Regions from separate parts of the Homo sapiens genome. Here region 2 is linked to region 1. A link means that fine-mapping ties the variant in region 1 to the expression of a gene that starts in the linked region. Tissue or cell type: whole blood. Region 1 holds a variant in brackets; the other region holds the start of a gene. All regions are shown on one strand. Distances are between the middles of the regions.

What was found. PIP is the estimated chance that this variant, and not a neighbour inherited with it, causes the effect.
Region 2: it holds the start of NME4, and the variant in region 1 is fine-mapped to the expression of NME4 in whole blood (INTERVAL, PIP 0.98).

The regions. Positions count from the first base shown.
Region 1 is chr16:628,034-630,781 of GRCh38, forward strand. RAB40C (RAB40C, member RAS oncogene family) reads left to right here. Exons shown (of 6, transcript NM_021168.5): 6 at 1-1,235. Among named protein-coding and RNA genes, the nearest start is that of WFIKKN1, 1.6 kb to the right of the region's middle. RefSeq lists enhancers at 1-107, 1,577-2,310, 1,836-2,130, 2,311-2,748. The variant G/A (reference allele first, on the strand shown) is at 1,367.
Region 2 is chr16:396,120-398,743 of GRCh38, forward strand. It overlaps NME4 (NME/NM23 nucleoside diphosphate kinase 4), which reads left to right and starts at 1,080. Exons shown (of 5, transcript NM_005009.3): 1 at 1,080-1,194. The coding sequence starts at 1,104. RefSeq lists an enhancer at 671-720 and silencers at 1,011-1,500, 1,641-1,710.

The sequences.
Region 1 (2,748 bases):
CGCACTTGGGACTCCTCGAGAGGGGACTCGCGGCCGCGATGGCAAGGCATCCTGTGAATTCATGCGCTGCGAGTGGCGGGGCTGCCCAGAGGCCGGGGGAGCAGACAGGGCCGGTGCTCCCTCTGGAAGCTTGGGTGACCGGGGCCCTGGCTCCCACGGGATGGAGGGTGTGGTCCTGTGGTCAGAGCCCAAGCAGCACTCAGGAGAGGGGAGAAAGGAGGTGCACCTGGCAGCCCACATTTTTGTTGCTCCCCAAATCCCTCCCCACGTGGGGATGAGAACCTTCCTGCTGTGATGTGACACCTTCGGGGACATTGACCACTCAAAACTCAGATCATCTCGCCCACCCTGGAGAGTGCAGAGCTATCTGTAGACTTAGGAATACTTGATGGGCAGCGGTGCAGACCCCGGGCACCTGCGTGCAGCCTCCTGTTCTCGGCAGCTTCTGTCGCTGGCCCTGGGGTCCCCACAGCTGCAGCTCTCCTGTGAGGTTGCACGGCATCAGAACCATCCTGACCTTCTTAGGGACGTGCCTGGAACCACCTCGTCCACGTCCACGTCCACCTGGGGGCCTCGGGAGGCTAGGCCCCTCCTCAAAGGCCCACCAGCCCGGCGCTCATGCTGAGCCCCAGGCACGCAGGGCCGGCCACCTCTCTCCTGAAGCCATTGGCCGCTCCTCCACCCAGTGCTTCTGCCCATGCCTGCCCCAGCAGCCCCTCTGCACGGTCACCATCGCCTGGGCCTGCCCACAGCACTGGTGCTCACCTCTACCTCCTGTCCTCAGGCCGTGCGGCACGACATGGCCAGCACGCAGAAGGAGCCCTCCCGGGACCCAGGACCCCCCGTGGTGGACTCCGCGGCACATGCTTCCCAAGGTGGTCCCACGGAGGGTGTTACTGGGCACCAGTGGACTCGCCCCATGGCCCGTTCCTGGGAGATGAGGGCCGTGGCCTGCATGAACTACCAGATGAGTAAGGGAACCCCAGGCAGGCGGCCCTGCCACAGCCCCCAAAGACACTGGCCTCCTGCTCCAGCTTCCCTGTCCTGGCCCCACCTGTCCTGTTGCTGCCAGCAGGGCCCTTGTTTGGGATTATGAACAAACCTCACAGACTTTGAGGACCTGGATGGTCCTGCATTCACGGCATCAACACTACCCGCGCTGCTGTTAGACACTCCGCCATTCCTGGTTCTCTCCGAACCGTTCTTTGTACAGTAAATGTAATTCAGCTGTGGTCCCCACGTTTTGCTGTGTCTGGTGGGGTGGGTCTGGCAGTGGCGGTGCCCCGTGCCAGGGGCCAGTGCTGCTTCATACCCGGCAAACTGACCTCTGGCCTTTGTTTTGCCTGCTGTTCCCTGCGCTGACCGG[G/A]CTGACCTGCCGCGGTTGGCTGGGTTCGCCTCAAAGTGAGGGCTGGAGCTGGGCTGGAGCAGCTGGGCCTGGTCACGGCCATTCTCCTCTTCCCGGTGGATGGAATCCCAGCTGGGCTGTGCTGAGCCCTCGCTCACAGTCCCCGGCAGCAGATGGCCTGGGGCGGACTGTCCCCAACAGCAGCAGGACTCCAGAGGGCCAGGTCCTCCAGTCAGTCGGCCCGCTCAGCAGAGCCGCCTGCACGCTGGCCAATCTGGTGTCTGCTATGCCCGGCCCAGGGGGGTGTGGACGCCCCGGAGGTCACAGCTGAGCTGGAACGGGGCACTCCAGTTGGTACAGGGACCAGACCACAGCCTCTGGCTCAGGTGCCTCCCTGTGCTGTTTCGTGGGCATGTCCGGGCCTTAAGCCCCTCCCTGGCAGCTCCAGCCCAGCCGCCTGCTGCTGGGTCTGGCCTAGCTACCCCCACCCCCACGCTATCAGGGCCCACCCCCAGTCTCCTTGTAGAGCAGGGACTGGCGCCTGGAGCCGTCTCCGGGTCTCATTCTGACCAGACCAGGCTCCTGTTACCCTGCCTCCTGGGTCAGAGGTCAGACACAGGGTCAGGGGGACACTCCCATCCGGTCTCAAGAGAACCACTCCCTGAGGCCCCAGACATCTGGAGCCACAGAGGGTTTGGAAGGGTAGATTCCAGGCAGCCTTTTGTCCTGCTGCACCAGGCAGGCCAGCCCCCTGCCCTCCCCAACGAAGAGGAGCCAGCCTGGGGATGTGTGCCCCGCCGACGGGGGGCTGGGGCAGGGCAAGGCTCTGGTGCCCTGGGACACTTGCTCTTTTCAGCTGCAGACGCCCTTGCACTTGGCCTTCCCTCGGGCGGTGCCATCCCACGCGGAGCCACGTCCAGGGCTACACGGTGCGTGGGCCGAGGCTCCGGCATCAGCGTTTCGGGCTGTTCTTATGCTTGTGGTGGCCACAGGCCTCTTCCTGCTGCACCTGCCCCGCCTTGGGGACAGGCCTGAGCCCCAAGCCCGCTGCCTGGTTTCAGGGATGGGGTCTCTGGGAATGCAGTCCTGCCGGGTTGGGCCCCACTCCAACAGGGGCAGCAGAGCAGAGGAGGCCGGGCTGTGCTGGGCGTCCTGCAGACCCCTGTGCCCCTGAAACAGCCATGGAGGGGGGAAGGAACCTCGGAGCGGAGTGAAGCCCTCGGCCGCACGTGACCGTTGCCAGCCTGGACCTGGCCCGGGGGACCCAGGCTGTGGTCAGCCACGCTCTGCGGGGAGGGCCCGTGCCTGCCACCCCCATGGCATAGGAGCCTGGGGTCCAGAGGGCGCCAGGGACAAAAGCTGGGATCTGCTGGCCCTGCCCCCACCCTACTGAGGGTCGTCAA
Region 2 (2,624 bases), 230 kb before region 1:
GGCTGCAGTGAGCAGAGATATGCCATTATTGCACTCCAGCCTGGGCAACAAGAGCGACACTCTGTCTGAAAACAAACAAACCTCAATTGTCTGTTATACACTTGCAATGGACAATTCAAATAAGAAAACAATTCCATTCACAATAGCAGCAAAAAGAACAGGCTTTTTCAAGACTCATTAAGTAAGTTCTAGCAGTGGGAGACCTAACCATTTCAAATAGTAGCATGCTGTGCTATCTACCCAAATATTACCGTACCTGTGAATTCTGTTGGTGACAAAGTCACAGGCCCTGCAACTATGAATGTGGCTTCTTCCTTATATCCGCAATTGAATGAATTAGAGGAATGCAGTCACATCAGAGGCCATTTGAGAATAAAGGTCGGATTTTTCCCCATTCAAATTCACAGACCAGGCTCACATCTGTAATCCCAGCACCTTGGGAAGCCAAGGCAGGAGGATTTCTTGATCCCAGGAGTTTGAGACCAGCATGGGCAACATAGGGAGGCCCCATCTCTACAAAAAATTAAAATATTAGCTGGTTGTGGTGGCGCGGGTCTGTAGTCCCGCCTACTCGTCCTGGCCGCAGAGTCAGCGTCTCCGGAGCGCCTCCTTCTCCCGCCCTGGGGCTCACGTGGGAATTTCACCCTCCATTGGAGGGGGCTCAGACCAGGGCTTCTAGACCTCCTTTTGGTCCGTGAATTTATTTTTGAGACAGAGTCTTGCTCTATTGCTCAGGCTGGAGTGCAGCGGTGCAGTCACAGCTCACTGCAGCCTCAATCTCCTGGGCTCACGCGATCCTCCTGCCTCAGCCTCCCGAGTGGGCCTTCCTCCGTGGGAAAGCGTTAAAACGATAGTTAACGGTTGCGTCGGTGTAAAGACGAATGCAATTCGAGAAGGATTCATTATTATTTTGTTTTTTCTTCTGATTTTTAACAGAAATTGGCGTTGAACATTTCCCCCGTGAGCGCCGGGCCACGGGGGTCCGGGGCGGCGGGGGGCTCCGGGGCGGCGGGGGGCTCCCGGGCGGGCGGGGGCGGGTCTCGGGCTGGCACCGCCCTCCGCGCCCGCTCCTCGCGCTCACAGCGGCCCGCGGGCCGGGCGTCATGGGCGGCCTCTTCTGGCGCTCCGCGCTGCGGGGGCTGCGCTGCGGCCCGCGGGCCCCGGGCCCGAGCCTGCTAGTGCGCCACGGCTCGGGTGAGTGGGGCCGCGCGCCCCGGCGGGGACGCGGAGGGGAGGAAGGGGCGCGCGCCGCTCGGCCTTTGTGCGCGCACGTGCGGGCTGGGGTCCGACTCCCCCAGAGGCCTCGGGGCGCGGGCTGCGGGGTCCGTCCGAGTTGGGGAAGGCGCCGGCTCGCACCCGCACGCCCCTCCAGTGCCCGTCCGGCTCTGCGGCTCCTTCTCGCCTCCCCAGGCCCCAGGCTGCAGGCGCCCGGCGAGTTGGCAGCCTGGGCGGGTCCGGGGCGACCGAGGGCCCGGGAGCGCAAGGAAGGCAGAGGCCGGCTGCAGCACTGGGCGGGGAGGGGGTCTCCCGGCCGGGGTGGGGGTGGGGGTGTGGGGGGGTGAGGGAGTCGGGGGGTGGGGGTGGGGGTGTGGGGGGGTGAGGGAGTCGGGGGGTGGGGGTGGGGGGAGCCGCTCCGCTGGGGCGTTCGCTGAAGGCCAAGTTAGGCCAGAATCTGACTGGGACGTCAGGCCCCAAGTCCCCGGCCCCGCCGCTGCCCGGCCCCCCCAGCTGCCACCTCACAGGACGATCCATGTCCCAGGGCTCCCTCCATCGGCTCTGAAAAGTGAGCCGCCGCCTGCAATGCCCGCACCAGCCGCAGCAGAGCCCCAGGCTACACAAGGCGCCCTGCAAACTGGGTTTTGGGGGAACAAACCAACCAGGGGGTCTTCCTCCCGTGGGCTTCAGCCGCCTGCTGGGGTTAACTTTTCCTCCTGGCCTGGCGGAGCCCCTTTGGCTCTGTCCAGATTCTGTGGGACATACAGGGTCTGGGCTCCTCTGGAAACCAGGGACCCGATGCCGGAGGGTAGCTTGGCTCTGGAGCAGCCTGGGACTATAGGAAGGTGAGGACGTCTTCTGTTTCCCTGGCAGCGTCCCCTCCAGAGGAGGACGGCTGGGGCGGAGCTCAGCGCTGACCCTGGGTCTGGAAGCGACAGGCCTTGAAACTCCACAGCAGCACAGGCCCCGTCTCCTGGCTCGGACAGAACCCTGCTACCTTCCCTCTTCAATCTTCAGGCCCCTTTTTGTCCGTGTTTCCAGGGCTCACCTGGTGGGGAAAGTGTGTTTCTCCCTGGTTCCCTGCCACTCATTCACCTCAGACACAGGGTGGGCTCTGGGTTCTTCCTCATGTGGAAAGTCGGGGCTTCAGACCATGTCTGTCGTCATCCAGAAGGGATGGAGTCAAAAGTGAGGCTGGAGTTTTGCAGGATCTCCAGACTTCCCTGAGGCCACTGAGCTGGGCTGTGCCTCTGTGGACCTCAGGGTGGTCGCTGAGCTGGGCTGTCCCTCCCTGGACCTTGAGGTGGTCCCTGAGCTGGCTCTGCCTCTATGGACCTTGCGGTGGTGGTCCCTGAGCTGGGCAGTGCCTCCCTGAACCTCGGGGCGATCTCAGGCAGCCTCTGCCTCTG